Linked DNA regions of Homo sapiens. The protein of the gene in region 1 interacts with the protein of each later gene in a biochemical or structural test. Each region holds a gene or a part of one and is shown in the gene's direction. Other genes may lie near its edges. The genes, in order: MXD1, SAP30, MAX and SIN3A.

Region 1 (7,023 bases):
GAACTGAGAAAAGAGAGCTGAGACGGGTGTTTGTTCTGCTTGTTTTGGATCTGGGAGCTCCGTGGGTACTCAGGGCTGGCAGAGGGATTCTAGATCCCAGGAGTTTGTGTGTCTGTATGTGTGTCTGTGTATGTGTGTGTGTGTCAGGGTTGGAGAGCTTTGGTAGGAGCTGTACATAACAGAGGGGTCTGTTTGCTTTTTTATCTGGTTCAGGGATTGGATTTCACTACTGTATGATAGAACTGAGTCTACTTAATATATTTCATTGCTCTCCTGTGGTTGGCCCGGGCACCAGTGTGGGGATGTCTGCAGGCAGTGGCATGTGGGCAGGGGGCAGCCATCAGGCTGCAGCAGTGAGGCGCCGGAGAAGGCCAAGGCAGACACTGCCAAAGACAGAGTTGGCTTTGGGTCTCTGCAAAAATCCAGAAAGAATTCTGGTCCTATTTTTGTAGAACTAGGCCAGAAAACACTGAATGAACAAGTATTAGTCTCAGCTGGAATTAGTCAAATGGCTTATTTCTAGTTTCACGACTAGGAGTGTTCTTTGGAAACCCACATTTGGGTAGTGAAAATTGCACTTTCTGGGCAAGACTCCTATAAGGCTAGAAATGACAATGCATCAAAAGATGACTTTATTATATTTTTATCAGTGGACAAACTTCCTAAAAAAATTCACACACTCATATCTGCATATAAACCAACATCATAAAAGTACTAAAATGACACTGTTCTGAATCATGCAGTCTTTGCAAATAACAAGCTGGCTGAAAAATATCTAAATATAATTTTAATTTTTGAACTTTTTCTTCTAATTGGAAAATTAGCTCATACCTGTAATCCCAGCACTTTGGGAGGCTGAGGCAGGCAGATTGCTTGAGGTCAGGAGTTCGAGACCAGCCTGGCCAACATGGTGAAACCCCATCTCTGCTAAAAATACAAAAATTAGCCGGACGTGGTGGCGGGCGCCTGTAATCCCAGATACTCAGGAGGCTGAAGAAGGAGAATCTGTTGAGCCTGGGAGGCAGAGGTTGCCATGAGCTGAGATCACGGCACTGTACTCCAGCCTGGGCGACAAGAGCAAGAACTCTGTCTCAAAAAAAAAAAAAAAAAAAAAAAACAAAAAAAGAAAATTAGTCTATAAGTTTTATGGCAAGAAATAGACAAATTTATAAATGTATAAATTATACTTTCTCATAGTGTTTCTAATAACATGATCTATTTTCATGGCTCTTTTTGAAGAATATTATCCAAGATGAACAAGTATATTTTACATACAAGTTTTCTTCCCTTCCCTGGTCCCCACCACATGCAGTAGTGGGAGGAGCACACCTGTAACATGAGTCTTTGCTCTGACTCTGCCACATGGACAGGTTTTTCAGAAGAAGTGAAAGACTTACAAAATAGTAAAGCCCTTGTGCTATTACCTCTTCCTAGCTCAGAAATGAATGCTGTACTCCCCAAGCTTGCCAAGCCTTAGAGCACCCTTGGAGAGTTTAGGACAACTTCCTCATGACCTAGAAGAGGCAGGAGGCTCAGAAGGAAGGAAGTCTAATGCCTTGCTTACTAGCCCTGCCTTAGGGGAACATCCTGAAGTCTCCCTGGAGAGTGTGAATTGACTTCTTACATTAATATCATGCATATTCACCTGTCCTATAGCTTTCTGAAGCCATTTCCTTTCTTTGGTCTATATTTTCAACTTTTGCTATTACAGTACAATTCTTAAGAGGAAAAAGGGCAAACCTATAAGGCATTGCATTGTTTCCCAATTCAGCTGGAGGGGAGCCTCCTAGACCCCAGGGAACTCTGCTCCAAGTAGGTTGTGTGTGGGCAATGAATGTTATCTAAAACCTGAAGACTCTGAGCACTGCTGAAGGTGCAAAGATGCAGTAGAGATGGACTCTGTCCTCTAGAAGCTTAAAGTCTAGTTGAATAGATGACATAATCCATTCAGCAAACACTTATTAAGCATGTGTGTGTTTGAGGCACGGTGACAGCACAGCAATGATTAAGCTGCAATCCTGACTTTCTAAGGAGACTGCAATGAATGGTTAAGTAAGAAATATGAAACAAGTCAGGCAGTACAGTGAACTTCCCAGTGAATAATATAAACAGTTAAGTGGTGCTTAGAAAATAGAGGAATCACTGTGAGCTAGGATGGCTTGGGAAGGCTTTAAGGAGGTGGTAAGCTTAAGCAAAACCCCCAAATCTCAGCTGCTTCTTACATTCATAGAATTTTCCAGGTTCTAGAATAAAGCACAAACCATTTCAAGGAAATGTAAATTTCTCAGTTGGAGCAACTCTCGTGCTCTCTCTTCAGTCAGTTGCCGTGGCTGCTGCTTCATCCAGCCCTTCTCCCTCTCCCACTCCGTGCCATTGCATCAGTCTGACATACTCCAAGAACAAAAAGTATAAAAAATGACTCAGTAAAAACCCCCATCACTTCCTTCCTTATCTCTGTCTGACTGTTCCTTGCCTTCTCCCTGCCCAGCCAGTTTCTTATGTGTCATTCCAGAGTTTGTCTACATACAAGAAAACATGAATATAGATTCTTGTTTTCCTCCATCTTTAAGATAGCATGGTATACTCACAGTTTGGAATCTTGCTTTTCTCCACTTAACAATATATCTGGAAAATCTTTCCTAATAGGACATAAAGCACATTCTCATTCTTTTTGATAGCTACATAGTACTACACGGTGTGGATGTAGCATAATTTATTTAACCAGTTCCCTCCTGGGTGGTCATTTGGGTTGTTTCAATCTTTGCTATTACAAATAAAGCTTCAACAAATAACTCCACAGATATATATGCTCCTTGACTTATGATGGGGTTATGTCTCAAGAAGCCCATCATAAATAAAAAACATCCCAAGTCTAATATGCATTTAATACTTCAATAAACTCATTATAAATTTAAAAAATTGTAAGTTGAACCATCATGAGTCAGGGACCATTACTGTATATAGTATTTACACATGTGAATGACTATATAATAGCAGATATTATTCCCTACCCCAGCACTTGTATTATCAATAGACTTAGCTTCGAAAACCTTGGATTTTGCTTCTCATTGGTTTTCACCAGAGTTGTCTGGTTCAAAATATGTTTATTCAGCAAAAGGTCATTGGTAGCATTTGCCATCGCAAGGCCTGGGCAACTTCACACTCTTTGAGAACTCATTCTGCCTGGGGTGCTTCTGGCCCACTGTGAAACTCTCAAATGCTACTGTGGTCTTGTTTTCATAGACGGGCTCATCTTCGCTTGTGCCTGGAGAAGTTGAAGGGGCTGGTGCCACTTGGACCCGAATCAAGTCGACACACTACGTTGAGTTTATTAACAAAAGCCAAATTGCACATAAAGGTAAGTGTATTGTTGGGATGCTGCTTTATCTTTACCTGTTCAGTGAGGGTTTGTCTGTTGTTACATCTCCAGGACAGTCCTCTCCCCTGAACTCCTCCAGTCTAGCTATTGGATGAATCACAGGTACCTCAAATGCAACATATTCAAAACCCAACTGAGTGTTTCTCACTCCCATGCACCAGAGGTTAAATGGTCCATCCAACTCTCCATCCAGTTGTACAAGCCAGAAATTCAGGAGTCCGTGATAGCTCCTGCTCCTTAACCATATATCTAGGCCATCTCCAAGGCCTAAATATTTTGCAACCGGTCTACTTCCATCTTCATCCCCACTGTCTACTGCAATAAAATCCTCAGAGGTCTCCCTATATCCCTCTGGGTCCCTCCCGTCTGCTTTCCATGCTTCCTGAGAACAGTCCTTCCAAGGTGCAAATCAACACGTGACCTTGTTTAAAATTCTTCTGTGGCTCAGGACAAGCTCTGTCACCTGGTCTGCCCCAGATTCTGCCTTGCCTGGTCCTCACTTGCCTCTGCAGCACCATCTTGTTCCCCAATTCCCCTTTCTCCAGCCCTTCTTCCAGTCCCTGGCACTGTCATATTGTCTTACTTTAGGGCCTTTGTCAATGCTCTTCCCTCTGCTTGGTACACTTTCCTCTCTCTTCTTCACCTAGAGGACTTCTACTTATTCTTCAGATCACAGTGCAAGTCTCTCTAGCTCTGATAATCCTTCGCTGACTTTCCCAACTCAGTGACCTCCTTCCTGTGACAGGTGGTCCCATCACTGGGTATCTCTTAGCCCTGTCATAACTGACATTTGACAGTGGTTTGTGTGACCATTGTGTTGTCTCAATCCTTAGACTATACACCCCACGAGGGAGGGGACTGGGTCTTTGTGCTCACCTCACAGCCCCAGCACCTCCTAGGGTATCGGGCACAGAGTTGACACTCTCTTTGCTACCTGAATAGCAAAGGGTAAGGGGAATTGGATTCAAAGTCTTGAGAGCCACAGCCAAAATCCCTGTTTAGCATGTTTGTATAATCATATTATAGTTGGACAAATGTTACTTTAATTATGGTTAGAAGCCTGCATTCATGACAATTCTGGGAGAAAACCTCTATTTAAAGCAAAACAGCTACAATTAAACAATCTTCTTAATTATCTGAAGAATATGAGAAGCTGGGGGCAGATTTATAAAAATGAGTATTCTATGGAAATGTGTTTTCTAAACTCTTCTGTTGGACAAATTAGAATCAGGACATCAAAAGGGACTATTATTTCCTGCTAACAAACAGAAGTTAATTGAGATTTGGCATGACACAAAAAAGTGCTTATGTAATTGGGACATGTACTTGAATAAACATAGTTTTAAATGGAAGCGTGTTTCTTAAGCTCCCATCAAGTGCAGTTTTCTAGTCCGGAGATCAGGTGTTCAGGGGATTGCTGCAAACAAGGGAGATCAGGTTGGGGACTGCTGCCTGCAGTCTTTCTGATACTAAAACTGAGGGCTACCAGGGTGCCAGTATGTGAGAGCTCACCCCCAGAATCCCTGTGACAGGACAAGTACCCCCAGCACTGGCGATGCTGAAGAGTCAGACGAAGCCAGGAGTCACTGGCCAGTCGACTTCCTGTCTCAGGGAGAAGCTTGATGAGTGGCACCGAAAGGCGTCTGAGGAAGTGTGGCGCATTCCACTGCTAGAAGGGAAGATGCGGGGGCCATTGCCCATTTAGAGATCTCCCTGTGGGGCCCAACAACTACCCCTTTGACTTGCAGAAACTTGAAGATTGTGACAGAAAAGCCGTTCACCAAATCGACCAGCTTCAGCGAGAGCAGCGACACCTGAAGAGGCAGCTGGAGAAGCTGGGCATTGAGAGGATCCGGATGGACAGCATCGGCTCCACCGTCTCCTCGGAGCGCTCCGACTCCGACAGGGGTGAGCCTCTCTCACTCTCCTCCCTGTCTCCCTTGTGCTCCCCAACCCCAGAGCAGGGGTTCAGTACTGCGGACAGGAGGCAGAGTGTAAGAAGAACTAAGACACTGGGTATGATGTAGAGAAGTCGAACAGTGTGACCTCCAGTGACAGGTTCCTTCTCCCTGCTAACACTTAGGTGACAACCCCAGAAGAGTTTGATTGGTGTCAGTTTTCAGCCTAGTTTGTTTTGTTTTGTTTTGAGACGGAATCTTGCTCTGTCACCCAGGCTGGAGTGCAGTGGTGTGATCTTGGCTCACTGCAACCTCCGCCTCCCGGGTTCAAGCGATTCCCCTGCCTAAGCCTCCCAAGCAGCTGGGATTACAGGCACACACCACAATGCCTGGCAAATTTTCCTATTTTTGTAGAGATGAGGTTTCACCATATTGGCCAGGCTGGTCTCGAACTCCTGACCTCAAGTAATTCACCCACCTTGGCCTCCCAAAGTGCTGGGATTACAGGCGTGAGCCACCACACCCAGCCAAATTTTTGTATTAGTAGAAACAGGGTTTCACTGTGTTGGCCCAGCTGGTCTCAAACTCCTAACCTCAAGTGATCCACCCGCCTTTGCCTCCCAAAGTGCTGGGATTACAAGCATGAGCCACCACGCCTGAGCTTTCTGCAGAGCGCTTTCATCAATGTCCTTCTCTCTTGTCCTCCCTGCAGAAGAAATCGACGTTGACGTGGAGAGCACGGACTATCTCACAGGTGATCTGGACTGGAGCAGCAGCAGTGTGAGCGACTCTGACGAGCGGGGCAGCATGCAGAGCCTCGGCAGTGATGAGGGCTATTCCAGCACCAGCATCAAGAGAATAAAGCTGCAGGACAGTCACAAGGCGTGTCTTGGTCTCTAAGAGAGTGGGCACTGCGGCTGTCTCCTTGAAGGTTCTCCCTGTTGGTTCTGATTAGGTAACGTATTGGACCTGCCCACAACTCCCTTGCACGTAAACTTCAGTGTCCCACCTTGACCAAAATCAGCTTTGTAACTGTTTTCAAGGAGGTGCTTAGGATTGTGGGTTTCTGATTGCATCCACTAGCTTCTCTTTTTCTCGCCATAAAAATTTGTCTCTGAGAGACTATACATTCCAATCAATTTGAAGCATCCAAGAATTCTTAGACCGAATAAGCAATGTCCACATCTCAGCAATCCCCCTCTTTGCTCTCCTCGTGTCCTCTCCCAGACCTTTCTTCCAGTTTTCTGGCTTACTGTGTTACTTGCCTAGGAGGAATGTCCAAGTGTGTCTTGTACTTAGGAAACTGAAGGAAACAAACTTTTGAAATTGAGATCCTGATCTCAGAACTCCAAAGTAAGCTTTGAAAGCAGCATTTAAGAGCACTTAACCATGGACCTCACCACCAGTGAGGAAGTCAGGAATACCTCTAGAAAACACGCCCTTCACACCGCGCATGCTCATTCCCCCGACGCGCCGCGTGTGGATGGGAGCAGTATTTCTCACTTTAAAATGGACACCTTGATAGTGTGTCTCTGGGGTTGCACAGCTCATCAAAGTTCCAAATTGTTTGTTCTCACAAACAAAACGGTACAATCTATTTTTGTGCGATGTTCTTGGGACCTCGCTGTGTTCTGCTATCTCGAGGCACATTCTCCCCTCCAACTTTGTTAATGCTACTTGTCTCTGGAACATTTTTTTTTCCTACCTCAGAGATAAATGAGATCTCCATTTCCCACTTAACACAGT
Region 2 (7,949 bases), on another chromosome or scaffold:
GGAGAGTGGAGCATGTTGGCTTCTGAGCTTGGGGTCCTGTGCCACTGCAAGTCCCTGAAGCTGGCCCTTTCAGCAATGTTCTCTTTCCTGACCTGGGTAGCAGTTATACGGATGTGCATTTTACCATAACTGCTTGTCTCCGTTCATTTGTGCCGCCATAACAAAATAGTTGAGACTCAGTAATTTATAAAAACCAGAAATTTATTTTCTCAAGGTTCTGGAGGCTGAGAAGTTCAAGATCAAGATTTGATCTTGGTGTCTGGTGGAGGCTGCTCTGTGCTTCCAAGATGGTGCCTCTTGCTGCATCCTCACATGGTGGAAGAGATGGAAGGGGTAAACTCGCCCCCTCTATCCCTTTCATAAGGCGCTAATCACATTCATGAGGGTGGCCTCACCACCTCCTAAAAGCCCCACCTCTTAGTACTGTTGCATTGGGGATTGAGTTTCACAATGAATTTGGGAGGGGACACACACAAACACTGAAACCACAGCACTGCTTAAACTGGACATTCATGCTTTATACAATTTTCTGTATGATGGCTGAGTTTAAAACTAGATAAAGGAAAGGTGGTGTAAAACGGAATGAACTTTTGCTGTAAAATATAGAATTATTCACATATAGAGATGTATATACTAGTAAATGCATACTTTTTTCTAGAAGGAAACAATAATCTGTTAACACTGGTTGCTTCAAGGGACAGGGATTTGAGGAGATGAGGTAAAACAGGCTTTTGTTTTTCATATGAACCTTTTTGTATTATTTGAATTTTCTACTGTGGTCATGTTGGGATTATTGGCCAATTTATATGTTTTTGTAAATTAAATAAAATTATTTAGTTGCTTATTTTAAAGTAAAGCCAGAAAAATGCAATCATGTTAAAAGCCTATAGGGAAGACAGGCACGGATACATACTTTTTTAAGAATCATATTTTGAACCATTTTAGAAAGCAAAGAGCATTTTTGTTGATATGAACAACCCCCCTATAATTAAGGTTTCATAGATCTATATTTTTTACCTAGTCTACTCTGAGGTAGATTTACTGTGAAGCTAAAGGATTCAAACTTCAGAGTCCCTCACTTGGATAGACCCTTATGAAGTCCTGTACCTAATTTTAATTTTGCATTCATAATTTTACATACTTCTTTAAAAAGACCTTTCAGATTATATAATCTTGAAGCCCCCCTAAAACCTGATTCCAACCTTGACTGTGAGTTACACTCAAATCAAAGAGTTCTTATACCTGCCCTAAATATGAAGATTTGTAGAAATAAGTAACAAAACATGGTTGTAAAAATGTATCTAAACAAATAGATTCACTCAAGATACACTTTAAATCTGGCAGTGAGAATTAACATGTCCCCTACTCCAGCAATCTTTTCAACTTGCCAGAAATGAATCATTTCCTCCTATGTGCTATGCCTGTACTTTCTCTCTATTGTTATTGAGGTTTGTATTATGTGCTTGTTAAGCTACCTGTCTGCCCTACTAGACAAGAAGCTCCCAAATAGCTAGGACCCTCTCAATTATTTTTGTGCCTCCAGGGCCTAGAAAAAGATTCTAGCATGCAACAAGTGACTGTTTAATAGGATCTTTTTACAACCATTGTATTGTGTGTAAAGGAGCCATAGCTACAGTTCTTTACTTGAGTAAGCTTCATATGAAACTGATAACTATACATATACATACATGCACAGCTTAAGGAGATTCACAAAGTACTTATCAGTAAGCATCTTTCTTTTTCCTACTGAATTTACATGATTTGGTCACATTTTGCAGAAGATATAAGCTTTTTTAAGCACAAGAACCAAACAATATGAATTTCATGAACTATTTTAAAAACACATAAATGTACAAAGAAAAATATGAAAATTCAACATCCCACTGTCATGTTTCAGATATTTTTAATAAATAAAAACTTTAAAATTCAGAAGAAACCATCTTTAAGCCATTCCCAGTGTGAAAATTGATCATACAATCTGGATCATTCTTGTCATACCCAACTAAATCAGAATCGAGGGACCAGGGGAGAAAGCAATCAGGGCACACAGCTCTAGCATTAAGAATTAAGTTTTTTACAACCCAGCTGCTGAAACGGCCTGCAGTAACTCTAAGACCAGTTTTACCGAGTAGTTGCTGAAACAATCTCCTATGACTAAGACTGGTTTTATCTACCACTCTCACTCACCAATCAGAGCTTGCCAGCTTCCCAAAACTTTACTATAGTGCCAATGAACCTTCTTTCAAAACAGTAGCAACATTTCTCTTTCTAATAAAACTCTCGACCTTCTCTTTGTTCTTCTGACATACTAAAGACCACTCAGTCTGTGTGTATGTCCTGAACTGCAATTCTTGCTTCCCCAAAAAACCATTAAATTTAGAAATTCATCTCTTTATATTTTATGTTTACTCTGACACCATATACAAATTCCTTGGCCTCCTTCGTTGGAGATGAGCATCACCCTGAAGTTGGGATGTATCATCCCATCCATATATTCTCATTTTTACCACTTAAGAAAATGTATCCATAAATATATAACATGTATCCATAAATATATAATTATTCTGTGTTGTAATTTTTTTTTTTTTTTGAGACAGGGTCTCGCTCTGTTGCTCAGGCTGGAGTGCAGTGGTGCAATCTCAGGTCACTGCAACCTCTGCCTCCTGGGTTCAAGCAATTCTCCTCCCTCAGCCTCCCAAGTAGCTGGAACCCCAGGCTTGTGTCACCATGCCTGCCTAATTTTTGTATTTTTAATAGAGACGGAGTTTCACCATGTTGGCCAGGCTGGTCTCGAACTCCTGACTTCAGATGATCCACCCTCCTCGGCCTCCCAAAGTGCTGGGATTACAGGCGTGAGCCACCACGCCCTACTGTGTTGTAATACTTTAAGCCAGTGTTATCTAATGCAACAGGTACAATTTATTGTAATATTTTGTTTAACCCATTACATCCAAAACATTTAAACATATATAAAAATTTTTAATGTGCACTTCAATATTCTTTTTGAAAATTTCTTGTAGTAAGTCCAGAAATAAAAAAAAAGTCCAGCTGATATATACTTACAGCACATCTCAATTCATATGCTAAAGTTAGAGTTCATAAAATTTAAGTTGGAAAAACAGATTCATATATCTGAGTTGTTGCAAACACACTTAAAAGTATTCCAACAATTGAATCGAGCATCAGGTTTTTGGTTTTTGTTTAATTCAAATTCAATTAACGATTCAGTTTTTCCGTCTCAACCACATTTCAAGTGCTGAGTAGCCACATATGGCTAGAGGACAGCCTACTGGACAGCACAGCTTAAGGAGGTACACAATGTACTTATCAGTCATCATCTTTCTTTTTCCTACTGAATTTACGTAATATTTAAATTGTTTTTCTTTGTCATATCCTAGAACTCAAACGCACAGATACAATGGATACCTTTGATTTTCTGCGTCGATGGCATTTTGCATTTAAAAAGATCATCTGGGTGGGGTGGCGCGCGTCTGTAATCCCAGCTACTCGGGAGGCTGAGGCAGGAGAATCGCTTGAACTCGAGAGGCGGAGGTTGCAGGATCGCGCCACTGCACTGCACTCCATCCTGGGCGACAGAGCAAACTGTCTCAAAAGAAAAAAAAATCATTTATCACTAAATTTACTCACCAAAAGAACTTGCAAAAAAAAAACCCAAAACCCTACTGCCTAAAATATATTTTAAAACGTATTTGTGTTTAAGCAGCATATATCTTTTGATAAATAATGACGCATGGTAGCTAACTAGTAAAGATGCAGCTTTCATATTAGCCACGCCCATCCCTCTCTCCGCCCTCCACAAGCACGTCCCCGCAAGCGCGCAGGAACATACACGCGTACGCGCGCACACACACGTACACACGCGCGCGCCCGCGAACACATACATACAAGCAGGCGCGCCCAAACGCCGGCAGCACACAGGCGCGCACGCGCTTTTCAGGACTCAGGAAATGCGCTTTCTGCTCCCCGCGCCCGGTAGAGCTAATGCAGGGAAGTTTCTGGGAACATTCGACCAGCGTTTGTATTGGTGAGGTTCCAAGTTTCCTTTAAAATGATATGACTCCGCCCTTCTCCAAAACCGTTTGAGGAGAAATGGAAAAGGTTGGGCGTGGAGGTGAAAAGGAGCCCTGTTGTCAACTGGTCCGTACTCCACCTCAGGAGGCGGCCAACTTGGTGCGCCCAAGAATAAAAACATTTCCCTTGTAAGAACATGCAAGTGTTTAGAAACGCCCCCCCACCCCCCCGCAAGGCGTTTGTGAGGGGGACCTGTCACAGTTGAGAAGTCAGGATGGGCGTTTTCCTCCCAGGAGGTGCCCTATTAATTTGCGGCCTCGATAGTTGGTCAAGCCGGGATGTTAGCTGCGGAACCTCCAGGACCGAAGAGCGCCAATTCTCCTGAGTTCTCCTTGGTTTGGGTTTCCCACAAAAGAGTGGTCACACCAAAAACTCTGTCTCCACAAATGCGAAACGGGCTCGAAACTTTTTTTTCCCCACACGATCACTTCCCACACCACTCCCATCCCTTTATGTTTCGCCTCAGGAGTCGAGGAACTTCTCTGAAAACCAATTCTACGATATTCCAGCAGCTAAACACAGCCCGAATTCCCTAGAAACAGAGAGAGCGAGAGAAAACACTGTAAACCCCAATCACACGCTCCTGTTTTCCCGGTACTGAAAAAAAAAAAAAAAAAAAAAAGTGGGTCCGTGGCCGCGCTATGCATGCTAGGATTAGTAGTTCCTCCGTCCCTCATGGCGCGGGGTCAGGGCGGAGCTCAGGTTGACTCTGCAGCAGAGAACTACAATTCCCATGGGGCCGCGCGGCAGAAAGAAAGGGGCGGGACGGGAGGGGGCGCGTCGCGCTTGCGCAGGTCCCGGGGCCGGAGGGAGGCGGAGGCGTAGCGGTCCAACTGCTGAAGTCCCCATGTGACAGTGAGCGGGGTCCCCGCTCCAGGAGACGCTCGAGTCTGCGTCCCGGCCCTCAGCACTGTCCACTGTTTCGGTGCCAGCAGAGACCAGCAGGCCCGGGACAGTTGGTGTTTGGCCGTGCCGCTGTCTAACTTGGTGTGCAGAGTGAATTGCCGCTGCCGGAGCGGAGAGAGGCGGAGCGGCCAGGAGAGAGGGGATTTCTGTCAGCGCCGGCCTCGGGAGCTCGGAGACATGAACGGCTTCACGCCTGACGAGATGAGCCGCGGCGGGGATGCGGCCGCCGCAGTGGCCGCAGTGGTCGCTGCCGCGGCCGCCGCCGCCTCGGCGGGGAACGGGACCGGCGCGGGCACCGGGGCTGAGGTGCCGGGCGCGGGGGCGGTCTCAGCGGCTGGGCCCCCGGGGGCGGCCGGGCCGGGCCCCGGGCAACTGTGCTGCCTGCGGGAGGATGGTGAGCGGTGCGGCCGGGCGGCAGGCAACGCCAGCTTCAGCAAGAGGATCCAGAAGAGCATCTCCCAGAAGAAGGTGAAGATCGAGCTGGATAAGAGCGTAAGTAAACCGCGGGACCGCCCTGCCCTCCCGCCCCTCGGTGGGGCCCCAGGAGCCGGGCAAAGGCACGGGTTGTCGGCGGGGTCCCCCAGACAACCGCACTGGCTGCAGTGCGGTCTCGTGGAGTCTGTGTTTGGAAGCAAATAACAAAGTCGCTGCAACTCCTACCGCCACCCCAACACACACACCACACACAGGCTGTCGTTCCCCTCTTCTTTCCCACCCTGGCCCCCAACCTCCCGCTGCCTGCGTCTCTCCCGCGCAGTCTTCCCTCTTCCTTCTCCTCTGCGACCGGGACACGAAACAAAGGGGACCGGCGCACTGAGGGCCCAGAGTAGTTTTCTTGCAGCCCGGCAGCTCTTCTGGAATGGAGGCGCCTTTGTTTTGCTGCCCAAGCTGGTGTTTGGCCCCAGGCGGTACTAAATCCCGTCGTCTAGGAGAAAGCGGAGGACCTTCACGAACAAGGAAGATCCTGTTCTTTTCTGTGTTCCGTCTCCTCCGGAGCGGAGTGAGAGGGAAGCCGAGCTCACCCGCCGCCTGGCAGTGAGCCGGGGTTGTAAACGGCGTTTGCGCTGTCAGCTCCGAGGGCAGCTACTCCGATGGTGGGGAGCACGTAGCCTCTGCGGTTTTGCCATCCCCTTGGCAGCCATCAGGATTTTTTGCACGTCTTTTCGTTTGACCATCTATGAGGTTTTTAGAAACAGCCGTTGCTACTTTTGGGAGATCTGGCTAGCGGTAAATGAATAACATGGTATCGAGAACCTACCACAAGTCCTGCATATTTTTATCTTGCGCTTGGCTTAGAAGTAAATGTAAAAGCCTGTTAGCTCAGTCCGTGTTTGTTTCAAATGCTAGTCTACAGCTCGCAGGAGTATATGTAATTAAAGTTTTTGAAAAGTTTATTTGTGACACTTTTTGCCCGTTTAAACAGTTTTCAGTGTTATCCATGAGAAACTCTTCAGGTGAACTTGCATAATTTCAGATTGTTTTGGAAAAATGTGTTATAGATAAATACATTGATTTAATATTCAGAAAAATGTATAACTGAAATTTAAATATAGTTTTGAAGTCGATGGCTCATTTGTGAAAACGAATGGTTTTGTATCTGGACTATAATTTGGGTATTCAGTTAGAAAGACTGGAAAGCATACATTATATTACTAAAATATGCTGTTCTTTTAAGTAGAGAAAGTACTGTCAAGTAGCAAAACTGTGAGCAACATCATCTTTCCCCTCATCAGTTAAAAATTCAACATGAACTAATTCAGGTCATCCTTACTGCTATCTGTTTGTTTATTTATTTAAGACAAAGTCTCACTCTGTTGCCCAGGCTGGAGTGCAGTGGCGCGATCTCGGCTCACTGCAACCTCCAACCACCAGGTTCAAGTGATTCTCCTGCCATAGCCTCCTGAGTAGCTGGGATTACAGGCTACTGCCACCATGCCCGCCTAATTTTTTGTATTTTTAGTAGAGACGGGATTTCACTATGTTGGCCAGGCTTGTGTGGAACTCCTGAGCTCAAGTGATCCACCCGCCTTGGCCTCCCAAAGTGCTGGGATTACAGGCGTGAACCACCGCGCCCAGCCCCTCACTGCAATTTGATGACAAAACCCAGAGGGTTGGAATTTCTCATTCTCCTCTCCCTCCCTCCCTTACCCCCTTCCCCAGATGGAACCAACCCCTCCTTCCCCATCCACCATCCTTTTAACAGTATTCCAGACATCTTATGTTTTAGCGTATAGGATTTAAACGTATAAATATTCCATTATCTTAACAATGGCCCATCTTGGCTGTCTTTATTTTTAAGAACTCACTGTGGCATATGTGTTTTACTAATACATAGACACATTTTACTGTAATCATAAGCAGTGTGTAAAACTTTTCTGTTTCAGGCAAGGCATCTTTACATATGTGATTATCATAAAAACTTAATTCAGAGTGTTCGAAACAGAAGAAAGAGAAAAGGGAGTGATGATGATGGAGGTGATTCACCTGTTCAAGATATTGATACCCCAGAGGTAGATGGAAGTTTTTTATGCTTAATGTAAATCCTAAGTAGTGCATTCTGAAGCCTTTATAAAAAGATATGAACAATCTTTTAAGTGTTTAAAACATTTGAGAAATCTGAAAATGAAAGCAAAATTAAATATAGCCAGTTGACATGCATTTACACAGTTTGAATTGTTACATTTTAGATTGACAATTTTTGCAGCTCTGTTGTCACATAACTTACTCTTTTTTTGACCTCAGTTTATATTATTTATCCCCAAAAGATTAAATTCTTTAATAATTTATGTTGGATTATATAAATTTTTTAAATTTTTTTTGATTTTGGAAGTAAATTTTATTGTGCTGAAGTTAAAATGTTTGTTATTATACATATCAATGATAAATTTTCAACAAATTGTATGAACTCATTTATACATGTTAATTTTTTCTAGGTTGATTTATACCAATTA
Region 3 (7,023 bases), on another chromosome or scaffold:
TGAAATTTTGGCTCGCAGTTCTTGAAAGCTTTCTGCTTTTCAAAATTTTCATCCATATGATCGTTGATATAAATTTGTTATTAAATTATTATAATGTTTCTGCTTTCCTGGAATGCTAATCTCATTGTTTTGTCTAGATGTTTTTAGTTTGCTGTTAAGGTGCCTAGGATTTTTCCTTTTGATTTTGGGGGTAGGCAAAGGAAGTTGGTTTGACACTTTGTTTTTAATTTAACACATCTATTTGTTGATATTTCTAAATATTACTCTGCACAATGTAATTACAACAGCATGGAGAGAAAAAGCAGATATGTTATAAACAAATTTTATAGTATATCAAACAACTATTGTGACTGTGTAGGGTAAAAAGGATTCCATTTTTTCCCCTCTGTGAATGCATCTGCTTACTTCTCAATATTTAATATGGATAATAAATATATTTTTTAAAATTTAAGAGGGAGCTATTCTTAAGTTTTGCCTTAGAAAAAAGGTTTAAAAAAAGATGTGGACTGTGAACAACCAAATACTTAGGTATTCAGGACTACAGAAGATGTTGAAAAAGTTATTTGAAAAGGGTTCTGTGGATCCTAATATAAAAACATTCATGTATGTTTTATAATGTCACTACAATATATAGGCCTTACTACATGAGAAATGTAAGATACTGAGAAGAGAGTTAGGAAGTTAGGCTAACTCTAACAGAAAGTGAAACTGATTTGGCAAATATTTTTTTCTATTGCTTCAGTACAAACGGAAAACAGCTTCTCCAATGGCCAGTAAGCTTTGTTAAAGGAAGTAACCCCAAAGAGTATTCTTACTACTAAATTCAGTACATCGCAAAATCCCACTGATGTTATTTTTATTATATTTTGGAGGGAAGAGGTTGCATTTTAAAGATAAATTTGTGGGACAGGTATATTATATTGCAAGGGCTTCCTTTTGCTTTATTTCTGTTTGGGAAATTTCTTTAGGAAAGAGTGTAAGTATACAGGAAATGTATGGGTTAGTGTGTTGGTCAGGAAATGCAATTTTTTTTCCAGTGACCATCCTTGATGGCACCTGACTGAGTTGCAGTTGCAGTATACTTGTGAGGGGTTTGAAAACAGATTTGTGCAATTCCACTTCTGGACCTTTCTGGCATGAAATATTTTTAACTTCTCAGAGCTCTTTGCTTCTTTAGGAATATTCAGAAGAGAACGAGCTTGGTAGCCTCCGAGATTGGAATTCACTCAGGAAACTACTGTCTGTTTTACCTGCAGTCAGTTGCATGGCAAAAGTGCTGCACAATGCATGTACTTTTTCTCTGCTTAGAGTGTTGACAGTGATGCTTACAGTGATAACAAATGCCAGAGTTAGTTCCTAAATGTGCCTGTGTTAGGGTAAAAGTTGTTCTTATGTCTAAAAGAATTTTTCCAAGATGCCAGTAACGGTGAAATAGTTGGTCAAAGAATTCAGCTTGGTTTTTAATTAAAATTTCCTGACCAAGGCATCCTTCTCTGAAATGGCTATAGTATGAGGCCCTGTTTGGATTATAGCATTTGCCAGTTATTTTAGGCACCAAAAGAAAAAAGTTTGAAAACAAATACATACATTAGATAATGTTGGAAATGTATACCAGGCAATCAGCTACAAGCAGGACAGGTATTGGAAAATTGAAATCCATGTCTTTCTCTTAGGGAGCTTGGTGAGTTTATCCCATCCTACCTGCCTATTATTTTATGTTATAATTTTTGGGTTGATTAAAATGAATATTTTAAGTTGCTTAGAAATTGAGCTTTATCCTATCTTGTTCTTATCTATCAGAAGTAAGAAATAGATCTTTTCGGATGAGATTTTTGGGTCTGTGTATTCTCGTGTCCTTAGTCTCTAATAAGAATAGCTTGATAAGAATCATAAGCAACACAAGCTTCCCTCTAAAATACAACCTTCACATTTTGTAAAGGTAGTAAATATTGAGTGGGCAACTAATTCCCTATATGCTGAGAATTTTCTGTATTAGAATTGAGATGGTTCCCCTTATAGGTGGGGTTAGCTGTCAGGTAGCCTGTAAGACATGGCATTGTTCTGGAGAACCTTGTGCATCCTGGAATAATGAAGCATTTATTTCCCCGTGCTATTTGCCTAGAACTTGGAGGAAATAAGATTACTGACTGATGTGATGCCTTGAACAAAGATGCAGTCTCTCTGCAGTAAGTTGGAAGGAAATAATTTTAAGAGATTTCCCTCAATTTTGAACAGACCTCCTTAGCCTAGATGACTTCTTGCCAACATAGCAACTTCTTGGCTAACAAAATAATGTTTGTCTTCAACATCTAACAACACTTAAGATACACGTGCTTGGTAGTGTCAAAGATGGACAAATTGTAGGTGAAGATTTTTATTCTGTCTACCAGTGTGGAAAGTTGGGTAGAAATATAACTGAGAGGCTGAATAAAAACTTTGGCAGAGATGTCAAAGCTGGAAGTGATTTGGTGCGGGAGTTTCTGTTGAGCATCTGTGGACCACTGCATAGCCCCTTAGTATTTCTGTTAGGGATGCCCTGGAGGAAGGGTTTTCTGGCAGACATCCAGACGTACAAATCCAGCGTACTAGAAGAGTGGGCAGCATCCAGCCACTGTAACCATAGGATGTGTAGGGGAGATGTTTGGGAGCCTGCTGTACAGTCCAAGAATACCTCTGTGGTCTCCTAGAATAGGGCCTAATTAATTCCACAAGGGGGTTTTCCGTACCATTTGTTTTCATTACTGAACATCATTCTCAGTACAGGCTCATCTGAGTAGAGTTTTATTTGTTCAAGACAATTGTTTGGGCTTGTTTTTTAAAACCAGTTTTGCATTTGGGGGAGGATATTAGATGCCTTACACTGGGAGTCTTCACCCAGTTTTTCTTCTTCAACTCTGAAATCTTGGCCCTCTCAAAAAGGGTTGCCAGCAAGCAAAGACAGTTAACAAGGCAGTGATAAAGCCTGCAAACTAGTCCTCCAATGGGGGTGGGGATGAGGCGCGGGCAGTGTTATTGGTCTGGGTGGATCTGTGGTTTGGAAATGTTTCCCACAGAGAATTCTCAGCCTTGTGTAAAGGTTTTTCTGTTTTTCATGTGCTCTTTCAAAACATTAGTGATAACATTTAATTCACAGTTGCCTGGAATTAGGCTTGTTAGTTCTGCATGTTTTTAACTTGTTCTTTCAAATCAAGCTTGGGGAAGAGAAAAATACATCCTTGCCATTGTCTCTGAGAGATTTAAAATTGACTCCACTAGTAGCTCAGGGATGGACATGGCAGCAGGGATTGGTGTAAGATTCCACTCTTCTGCTAGTTAAATTGGGCCTGGAACCACTACAGAAATTCCATCCACTACTTTGAGAACAACAGTCCCCAGCCCAGGCTTTCTACCAGGCAGTGGACTGCTGCCTTTCCTTGTTGAGCCAACTTCTCAAACTTGGCTGGCTCCCCAGATGAGAAGCCAAGATTTCTGCTCATGATCTACAGCCAAGTTCACTTACAATCCTCCAACCGAGAGACTTGTCCATTTGAGTCCTTTCAGAGCTCAGTGAATGGGAGGGGGTAGTGCATTGTGGGGATGATTTTGGTGTTAGATTATACTTAGCTCCACCCCTTTAGTGCAGGTCCACGTGAAACCAAGTGCAACTTCATTCTAGCTGTTTGAGATTTGCAGGGCTCTCCCAGAAAGAAAACAGACAATTAGAATTTTATTTGTATCAACAAGAGGGATTGTGGGTAATTCTGGTGCACAGCTCTTAGCTGGGAGGAGGGCCAAGAATCAGGGTGATTTAGTAGACAGGAGTATCTTGGGCTGCTCTGGAGACCAAAGATGGGCAATTAATTTGCATGTAAATAAACCACCTTAGGTAGTATATAGCAAACAGGAGCCGCAGACACATGCCAAATATTGTCTCTTGGCCTTTAAGCTCCTTAGGTATAGTCGCAGCCCAACTTATCTTTATGTAGATGATCAGAGGGAACAACAGTAAGTTCAAAAGGACTAGATACTTAAATAGGTTCAATTCTGTCGCACTATTTCATGCTACTGTTAGAAGGCATCTATAATTTTGCGCTAAAGTTGTATGATACAGAGTACCTACCTCTACCCTCAGGTTATGTGGTGTTCCAAACTTGACTGTCCTCTCAGCTTCATATTTCATGTCACTATAGTTCAGTAAACATTCATTTTACAGTGAATCCAGACTTAACAAGATTAGGACAACTTTAGAAGTGCTCCAGGCATCTGCCCCAAAAAGAGAGATATGCTATGGAGAACCATGGTTGTCATGGGAACCACATGTCCAGTTCAACAGAGCTGTAGGTGAGGTATTATGTTTAAGAGACCAGGAAGTAACTCAGATGACTACAGGTGCTCCCAGTCTCCTCTTCCTCTGTAATGACTGGGACTTTTAGGATTAAATAACAGGAGAATTTCAAGTCCTTTCGTTTTCACAACTCTTGATAGATTTTTGTCTGTACATCTTCTCTAGTACAAGGATTAATGTGAGGCAGCATTATTCTTGTGCTAAGCCAAGTTATTTACTCTTGTTCCATTTTTTGAATTTCTGGCCCTCTGTTTGTATAGATTTAAGCTACCTGAACTTCCCATGTACAGACTGGCTCTCTAGATTAGCTCAGTGCAACGTTGTGCATTCAAGGTGAATGTTCAGAGCATAATTTCCGTAATTCCTAGAGTGTAGGTGTGATGAAGTTCTTCTTGCTTTGGGTTGTTTGTGTTCCATTTGGAGGGGAGACCCCTCTGATGGGGACCTGCTGAAGTGCTCTTATCATGCTCTCCAGCGCTATCTCTTCTGCCTGAAGCCAGAGCATTTTGCCATTCCTGATTTGGTGTTGGCAGTTTTGGTCCATCTCCAGCTGACCGTTCTTTGTGATTCCAAGCAGGCTAAGGCTTTGACTTGGATATTTAGATACTGCCAGTTAGCCTGACCTGCCACAGGTACCTGAGAGAATTTATTCTGAGTATGTGGTGTCAGAAGTTGTGCCCTCTAAGAACTGCCTGTCAGGCACTGCCTGTGTGCAAGGAAGCCCTTGGCAGGATAGCACCTTGGATCTACTTTTAAAAAATAGGAACTCAGAATTCAGTTGTCATCTTATCAGCTCTGTCATAATGATCTCAGATTCATGCATCTAGGTTTTATAGAGGTTTTAGCTTCTGTTGTATGATTTGGTGAGAAGGTCTTAAACTAGTGCCTTTTAGTGGGCTTGGGACTCATGGTGATGGTTTCACATTAAAGAAGCACCAGTGACTTAACTCTTTCTTCCCCTGGACACCCATCTGGGGAATCTCTTACAGTGGAGGTGATCACATCTTAAGAAGGGGCCACTGGAGCTTTCTCTAGTCACTTCCTAACCACAGACTGGTGGCTCTTCTGTCACATAAGCAAGTTGGGGGGGACCACTGATGTTACAGGAGAGTCACACTTTGTCCCCCTGAATAACTTTTATTTTACTTATGCATGAGCTGGATGCATCGAGCTACTTTGGATGTTCCTGTCGCAAGCGTTGCTCACCCCTTTCTCCCCCTTTAGCAGAGCCTAATTCTGGAGACTCCTAACTGCCCACCTCGAGAAATCCTTCCCAGTCCACTCGCCAGGGACAGTGCTGACAGCGTGTACTTCCAGGCTGTACCCCACCCACCTTGTACCAAGCAAAAGGAGTGACATTCCTAATGTGTTCTTTCTCCCATTCTTCTAGGCTGACAAACGGGCTCATCATAATGCACTGGAACGAAAACGTAGGGACCACATCAAAGACAGCTTTCACAGTTTGCGGGACTCAGTCCCATCACTCCAAGGAGAGAAGGTGAGTTTCCTGAGAAAGCTGAGTAGCTGGCCACTACTAGCTTGGAACTTGTTGCAGAGCTTAGCAGAGCACTCACCTATTGGGAAGGAAATGTAGTCAGAGATATTCAGGTAGCATGGTTGCCTTATTTTTGACTGTTTGGAGGATCACTGCACACCTTACGTACTCCAGTTTATCCTTAACAAAATATGTCAGATATAATGGAGCTATTTGTGAGATAATGGTAGGAGTTATCTTTTAAAATTTGTATTATTTGTAATAAATTCAAGAAATTATAACTATACACTATAGTATAAAGAGTGGCCAAGAGTTCGTTTGGGATAACAGTAAAGATTCCAGAGGTCATTAATACCCTAGACCTCCATGAGAATTCCTTTCCTATGGTTCAAAGTTAATACTTTATTGTAAATGAGCACTTGCAGAAATGTGTGTAATGTATGTGAAAAACAACCTGGGCACCATTGATTTTCCAGCCCCAATAATTGTTATTTCCAAGGCGTATAAAGAGCATTTTAAGCTGTGGGACAAAAGACTTGAGTGAAGAGACATGTTCATGTGAAACAGAAAAAAAATAACCATTCTTCCCCACTCCCTTCTGGAACCTAGTGTTTTCCCTGGAGGGCTAGGCACCAGCTGTTTCTACATTTGAAAAACAAAATTAGAAGCTTTGAGTAAAAGCCTATGGGTTAGGGTCACTCCCTGGAATTTGGAGAAAACATCTGCATGGCTAGTTCCATCCTTGACAGAGAGTGTAGTTGTCTGTAGCAATTCATTGGAATAACTGGCAAGCTGGGAAGAGGACCTGTGTTTTTGCTTTAGTGATCCAGTGTTTTATAAAGAAGGAACTATTCTGTTAAGAACAATCTTTGCTTTTGGGTGCACTTTGATTTAGTTCTGTGGTGGGGGTCCTGGATTTGTTTGGTTATCCAAGATCAAATTTGGAACCCTTATGCTTTCATTTTTTATATTGTCACTCTGGTAAGTTATGGCCTCTATACTTTATCTAAGGTGTGGCTTTCCATGTGGCGTAAACATGGAGAAGTTCTGACCTTTATAAAGAACAAAACAGGCCATGTACATACCTGGTATTGCAAAACCAGAATTTGCCATGGGTTAAGCCTACTTAGTGTGGACTTGATTTAATGACCTTAAACCAAGGTACTTACCTGGAATAACAACCTTCCTGGGTACAACACTAAGT
Region 4 (7,023 bases), on another chromosome or scaffold:
TGCTTTTCATGGCTTTCTCTCTTTTCTGGGCAATCCACCAGCCAAGAGTTTGTTAAGCTTTACTTTCTGTAGGCCTTTAAAAAAATAAATAGTATATGCTTTTTCAAAATACACCTTCCTCGCCCCTTGAAAAATAAAAGCTGATATTTATTGAGCACTTACTGTGTCACAGATACTGTGTTAGGCACTAGACTTTTTTTTTTTTTTGAGATGGAGTCCTGCTCTGTCTCCCAGGCTGGAGTGCAGTGGTGCAATCTCAGCTCACTGCAACTTCCGCCTCCCGGGTTCTAGCGATTGTCCTGCCTCAGCCTCCACGAAGAAGAAGCTGGGGCGCCACCACACGCCTGGCTAAGTTTTGTACTTTTGGTAGAGGCAGGGTTTCACCATGTTGATCAGGTTGGTCGCAGACTCCTGACCTCGTGATCCGCCCGCCTCAGCCTCCCAAAGTACTGGGATTACAGGCATGATCCACTGCACCCGGCCGCATAATGTCTTTTTTTCTCATGTCTTTTTTTTTTTTTTTTTAGACGAAGTCTCGCTCTGTCACCAGGCTGGAGTGCAGTGGCATGATCACAGCTCACTGCAGTGTTGATCTTCTGGACTTAAGCGACCCTCCTACCTTAGCCTCCCATGTAGCTGGGACTACAGGTGTGTGCCACCACGCACCTGGCTAATTTTTTTTATATTTTTATAGAGGTGAAGTCCTGCTGTGTTGCCCAGGCTGGTCTCGAACTCCTGGGCTCAAGAGGTCCTTCTGCCTCAGCCTCTCAAAAGTGCTAGGATTAAGACGTGAGTCACCGTGCCCGGTCATGGGTGGCAATTTCTACCTGATGTATTTCTTATTTGCCCCTTTTGCTTTTGTTTTCCCTACCCACTTTTTGTCTTGTATGCTTGTATGTTACCCATATTTCTCAGCATGACAGTGGACCCTTCATGAGTCTTCTTGGTGTCCTCCAGGGCTAGGCTTGCTGACATATGGGCTATTGGAGGATATGCAGGTCCACATCCTTTATTTGCAGTTCTGAAATGCAAGAGTTTTTGTTTTTTGGTAAGTCTAGTTCCACAACTAGTTTTGGGGTACAGCCTGACCTGGGCTATCCTGCATGATGCAGAAATGTGACTGCTTGATTATGGGGAGCTACTCAGCCCTAGCTGGGAGAGAGAGATGATACAGTATATGTACCATATTACCTTTCTAAAATCCAAACAATGCTGATGACTCTAACGGGGATCTCTCCCTCTACCATAGACTAATATGTTTAGTGGCCCACTCAAGGTCTCCACTCGATGTCTCCTCTTGGATAACTAAGAGACATTGTTGACTCTTCTGTGTCTTTTTCATATGTGGTCCATCAGTAAATTTTACTGCTTTATATTCAAAATACTATCCAGAATTAGACCACTTAGGATCTGCATCTCCACTGCCCTAGTCAGTGCCTGTGCATCTCTAGCTTGGATTCTATTCTCCTTGTTTTGTTACTGCGGCTCTTAAATGTGTTCTCAACATAGCAACCCAAGTGATTCTTTTGAAACCTAAGTCATACCGTGTCACTTCTCTGCTTAAAACCATCCAGTGGCTTTCCATTTCAGTCTGAGTATTAAACCTGAGTCCTTATTTAGATATGTCTGTAATGAGCTGGGCGCGGTGGCCCATGCCTGTAATACCAGCACTTTGGGAGGCTGAGGCAGGCGGATCACGAGGTCAGGAGATTGAGACCATCCTGGCTAACATGGTCTCCACTAAAAAAAATACAAAAGAGTTAGCCGGGCATGGTGGCACACGCACCTGTAGTCCCAGCTACTCGGGAGGTTGAGGCAGGAGAATGGTGTGAACCCGGGAGGTGGAGCTTGCAGTGAGCCAAGATCGTGCCACTGCACTCTAGCCTGGGCGACAGAGCGAGACTGTCTCAAAAGAAAAAAAAAAGGATATGTCTGTAATTTCACCATTTTGGGAGCTCAAGTGGGAGGATCGTTTGAGTCCAGGAGTTTGAGACCAGCTTGGGCATCATAACAAGACCCTGTCTCTATAAAAAAATTAAAAATTAGCCAAGCATGCTGGCGCGTGCCTGTAGTCCCAGTTACTTGAGAGGCTGAGGCAGGAGGATTGCTTGAGCTCAGGAGCTTGAGGCTGCAGTGAGCCATGACTGTGCCACTGCACCCCAGCCTTGACGACAAAATGAGACCCTGTGTCAAAAAATAAAAAAACACCTGTAAGAACAAATCTGATGTACCCTCTGCCTGCCACCCTTATCCTAGTACCTCTCTGACTACATTTCTGACTAGTCCTTCTTTCGTTTTTCTTCAGCTACCCAGCCTTCATGCTGTTTTGGAACATGTCAAGCACATGTGAGCCCTCACAAAGACATGAGGGTCTTTGCGGTTGCTGTCCCCTCTGCCTAGAAGGCTTCCTCCACTAATTTCTGCATGACTAGCTCCCTCACTTCCTTTACTCAGAAGTTACCTTATCAGTAGGTATTATCTGACCATTCTTATCTACAATTTCAAAAACTCTTCCTTGCCTTTTGTTCTTGATACCTGTCACTGCCTACTATTCTAAATATTATACTTTGTCTATTGTGTCATCTTTCACTAAAATATAAGCTTCTTGAGGGAAGAGATTTTTGTTTACCGTTGTATCTCCAGCTCCTAAAACACCTGGTGCATAGTATGTGCTCAGTAGATATTAGAGAATGTATACATGAATGAATGATTTGGTTTCCACCACAGACAAGACAAAGCAGTATGCTGAGCATGGTAGAGGATACATAGATGGTTAAAGATGTTATGTGCCCATGTTTGTGTGGGAGCAGAAGAGCTAATGTGATAAAAGCAGTGTGAGATGTGAGTGACACTTCCACCTGTCCTTTCAAGAACTATCTCAAGTTCTATTCTTTGTAATGCTCTATTTTCTTTTCTTTCTTTCTTTTTTTTTTTTTTTTTTCTTTTTTTTGAGACAAGGTCTCACTGTGTTGCCCAGGCTAGAGTGCAGTGGTACTATCTCGGCTCATTGCACACACACACATACACACACCCAGCTTCAAGTGATTCTCCTGCCTCAGCCTCCCGAGCAGCTGGGATTACAGGCATGCGCCACTACACCCAGCTATTTATTTATTTATTTATTTATTTTGAGACGGAGTTTTGCTCTGTCTCCCAGGCTGGAGTGCAGTGGTGCAATCTCGGCTTGGCACAATCTCAGCTCACTGCAACCTCCACCTCCTGGGTTCAAGTGATTCTTCTGCCTTAGCCTCCCGAGTAGCTGGGATTACAGGCACCCACCACCATGCCTGGCTAATTTTTTTTTTTTTTTTTTTTTTTTTGAGACAGTGTCTCGCTCTGTCGCCCAGGCTGGAGTACAGTAGCGCGATCTCAGCTCACTGCAATCTCCCCTTCCCAGGTTCAAGCAGTTCTCCTGTCTCAGCCTCCTGAGTAGCTGGGATCACAGGCGCCACCACCATGCCTGGCTAATTTTTTGTATTTTTAGTAGAGACAGGGTTTTACCACGTTGACCAGCCTTGTCTTGAACTCCTGGCCTCAGGCAATCCACCTGCCTTGGCCTCCCGAAGTGCTGGGATTACAGGCATGAGCCACTGCACCTGGCCTTATAGATATTTTGAAAGATTATATTTCTTATATTAAATAGAGATAGGGTCTTACCATGTTGCTCAGGCTGGTCTTCCTGGACTCAAGCAATCCACCTGCCTCAGACACCCAAAGTGCTGAGATTACAGGTGTTAGCCACCATGCCTGGCCTAATACTTAATTTTTAAAAAACTTTTTCTTTGGAAATAATTTTAGACTTCAAAGAGAGTTGCAAAAATAATACAAATAATAGCCCTATAATCTTCACCTAGATTCCCCAAGTGCATCTTTTAAAACCACAATACAGTGATCAAATCAGAAAATCAACATTGATAACAATTATTAATACATTTTGAATTTAACTAAATTTCTGTTCATTTTCTACCTACAGTAGTAAGAAATGTCTGGGTAACATCAGTGTCACCGAAGTCTGTATTGCCCAGATTGGTCTCAAACTCCTGGGCTCAAGCAGTCTGCCCACCTCGGCCTCCCAAAGTGCTGGGATTACAGGCCTGAGCCACTGCACCTGGTCTGGACTCAATTTTAGTTTTTGAGTTTTGCTTTTTTTTTTTAAAGCAGTACTAACTACTTGTAAAGATGTATATTTCATGACTTTTATTTATTGGAGGTCTTCAAAACAGCAAAGAGAAAATTTATTTTTATTTTTAATTTTATTTTTGAGATGCGGTCTTGTTCCATCCCCAGGCTGGAGTGCAGTAGCGCGATCTTGGCTCACTGCAACCTCCGCCTCCTGGGTTCAACTGGTTCTCCTGCCTCAACCTCCCGAGTAGCTGGGATTACAGGTGTGTACCACCATACCCAGCTAATTTTTGTATTTTTAGTAGAAATGGGGTTTCACCATATTGGCCAGGCTGGCCTCAAACTTCTTATCTCTCGAAGTGCTGCGATTACAGGCATGAGTCACCATGCCCAGCCTGAAAATTTATTTTTTTTCCAAAGGAATAAACTCATTTTAGCTATTACCACTTGTACATCGAAACAATGTTGTGGAGTTTTACTGATCTTATTTTTCCTGTATATTGAAATGTTTTGGTATTTCATCATCCTAGGAATTATTTCATCATTACTCATCAATTCTCAAATATGCTAAAGAGGACTAAAATAATATGACAAAGGGAGAATTATAGAATTGCTTAAAAGGATATGCAGTAGTGAAATAAATCATTAGTTTTACACTTCAGTTTTTAGAGATGGGGCCTCGCTTTGTTGCCCAGGCCGAAGGGCAGTGGTATGATCATAGCTCTCTGCAGCCTCAAACTTCTGGGCTCAAGTGATCATCCCTCCTAAGCATCCTCGGTAGCTGGGACTATAGGTGTGCACCGCAGCCCTTCAGTTTTCTTATTGCTTTTCCCAAAACTTACAGCAACTTTTTTTTTCTTTTTGGATACAGGGTCTCACTCTGTCACCCAGGCTGGAGTGCAGTGGCGCAATCTCAGTTCACTGCAACCTTCGCCTCCCAGACTCAAGCAATCTCACCTCAGCCCTCCAAGTAGCTGGGACTACAGGCATGTGCCACCACACCTGGCTAATTTTTGTATTTTTTTTGTAGAGAGAACGTTTCGCCATGTTGTCTAGGCTAGTCTCGAACTCCTGGGCTCAAACAATCCACCCACCTTAGCCTCCCAAAGTGCTGGGATTCCAGGCATGAGCCAGCATGCCCAGCCTACAGCATCTTTCAAGAAAGTATAAAAGAAGTTGGGAGATACCATCTTAAACATTATGTAAGATGTTAACATTTGGAGAATCTAGGTGAAGGAGTACATGGTAATTTTTATACTATTTTTCAACTTTTAAGCTTTCATTGGACATATTTAAAAATCCATAGTTTTTCATCTTCCTCCTATAATGGCAAAGAGAAGAAAACTGACTACAGAAGACATTTCAGAGGAACTAGTAGATGAATGCTGTGTGACAGTAGTACTCTAGACTGTTAGGATGACGGTAAAGTTATATAAACCAAGTTGTAAAATAAGAGTCTTCAGCCAGGCATGGTGGCGTGCACCTGTAATCCTAGCATCTCGGGAGGCTGAGATGGGAGGATCACTTGAGCCCAGTACTTCAAAACCAGGCTGGGCAACATAGCAAGATTCTGTCTCCACCCATATACATATGTGACTGTACCCTAGATGAGTTTAGAATGTGATTTTTTTTTTTTTTTTTTTTTTGAGACAGAGTTTTGCTCTTATTGCCCAGGCTAGAGTGCCATGGCACAATCTCGGCTCACCGCAACCTCCGCCTCCTGGGTTCAAGGGATTCTCCTGCCTTAGCCTCCCAAGTAGCTGGGATTACAGGCATGTACCACCATGCCTGGCTAATTTTTTGTATTTTTAGTAAAAGATGGGGTTTCTCCATGTTGGTCAGGCTGGTCTTGAACTCCCAACCTCAGGTGATCCACCTGCCTTGGCCTCCCAAAGTGCTGGGATTACAGTCGTGAGCCACCATGCCCAGCGGTGAATTTTTTTTTTTTTTTTTTTTTTTTTAAAGATGGGATCTATCTCACTATGTTGCCCAGGCTGGATTTAAATTCCTGAGCTCAAGCTGTTCTCCTGCTTCAGTTCCCCCAAGTAACTGGCACTATAGGCATCCAGCTAGAATGTGATTTTCTTTTTATAAGAATCAGAACTGGGCTGGGTGCAGTGGCATATGCCTGCAATCCCACCTTCTTGGGAGGCTGAGGTGGGAGGATCGCTTGAGCCCAGACGTTCGAGACCAGCCTGGGCAACATAGTGAGACCCCATTTCTATTTTTAAGAAATGAAAAAAAAAAACAATCAAAACCACTGCACTTTGCCAAAAAGATGTATGATAGTATTCTTTCATCTTTCAAGATATTTGTACACCAAAACTTAGTTGATGCAGTTTGTAAGTGGACAGGTGCCAAAGTTACGTATATGTATAAAGATGGTTAGAAGGAAAAATTATGTAAAAATGAAAAAAAAAATCAGTTTTTTTTTTTTTTTTTTTTTTTTTTTTTTTTTGAGACAGAGTCTCACTCTTGTTACCCAGGCTGGAGTGCAGTGGCATGGTCTTTGCTCACTGCAACCTCTGCCTCCTGGGTTCAAGCGATTCTCCTGCCTCAGCCTCCCGAGTAGCTGGGACTACGGGTGCGTGCCACTGCACCCAGCTAATTTTTTGTAGTTTTGGTACAGATGGGGTTTCACCGTTTTAGCCAGGATGGTCTCAATCTCCTGACCTCGTGATCCACCCGCCTCGGCCTCTGAGAGTGCTGGGATTAGAGGCAAGAGCCACACGCTCAGCCTGGATTGTTCATTCTGATTGACATTTATTAGTCTAAAAATGAGAATGCTTATGATTATGGAGCAAAGAAGATGACTGTTCTCTCCAACAAAATTATGAAGTGAGTTTTCAAAGTATTTCATTTGATGGGCAGAAAGGGAAAAAAAGACCCAGAGGTGATAAG

Evidence for each region.
Region 2: the proteins of MXD1 (region 1) and SAP30 form a complex in vitro, tested with the Homo sapiens proteins (one study listed by BioGRID).
Region 3: the proteins of MXD1 (region 1) and MAX form a complex in vitro, tested with the Homo sapiens proteins (4 studies listed by BioGRID, with this or other methods).
Region 4: the proteins of MXD1 (region 1) and SIN3A form a complex in vitro, tested with the Homo sapiens proteins (4 studies listed by BioGRID, with this or other methods).

Annotation. Positions count from the first base shown.
Region 1 is NC_000002.12:69,932,108-69,939,130, forward strand, and holds part of MXD1 (max dimerization protein 1), read left to right. Parts: intron 1-609; exon of another isoform or gene 610-1,086; intron 1,087-3,243; coding exon 3,244-3,358; intron 3,359-5,127; coding exon 5,128-5,287; intron 5,288-5,989; coding exon 5,990-6,177; 3' UTR 6,178-7,023. UniProt on the Homo sapiens protein: Component of a transcriptional repressor complex together with MAX. In complex with MAX binds to the core DNA sequence 5'-CAC[GA]TG-3'. Antagonizes MYC transcriptional activity by competing with MYC for MAX binding.
Region 2 is NC_000004.12:173,366,008-173,373,956, forward strand, and holds the start of SAP30 (histone deacetylase complex subunit SAP30), read left to right. Parts: upstream 1-4,946; 5' UTR 4,947-5,175; coding exon 5,176-5,490; intron 5,491-7,382; coding exon 7,383-7,508; intron 7,509-7,931; coding exon 7,932-7,949. UniProt on the Homo sapiens protein: Involved in the functional recruitment of the Sin3-histone deacetylase complex (HDAC) to a specific subset of N-CoR corepressor complexes. Capable of transcription repression by N-CoR.
Region 3 is NC_000014.9:65,092,507-65,099,529, reverse strand, and holds part of MAX (protein max), read left to right. Parts: intron 1-5,218; exon of another isoform or gene 5,219-5,714; coding exon 5,715-5,822; exon of another isoform or gene 5,823-5,898; intron 5,899-7,023. UniProt on the Homo sapiens protein: Transcription regulator. Forms a sequence-specific DNA-binding protein complex with MYC or MAD which recognizes the core sequence 5'-CAC[GA]TG-3'. The MYC:MAX complex is a transcriptional activator, whereas the MAD:MAX complex is a repressor.
Region 4 is NC_000015.10:75,441,678-75,448,700, reverse strand, and holds part of SIN3A (paired amphipathic helix protein Sin3a), read left to right. Parts: intron 1-526; exon of another isoform or gene 527-648; intron 649-957; exon of another isoform or gene 958-1,048; intron 1,049-2,305; exon of another isoform or gene 2,306-2,468; intron 2,469-3,295; exon of another isoform or gene 3,296-5,367; intron 5,368-7,023. UniProt on the Homo sapiens protein: Acts as a transcriptional repressor. Corepressor for REST. Interacts with MXI1 to repress MYC responsive genes and antagonize MYC oncogenic activities. Also interacts with MXD1-MAX heterodimers to repress transcription by tethering SIN3A to DNA.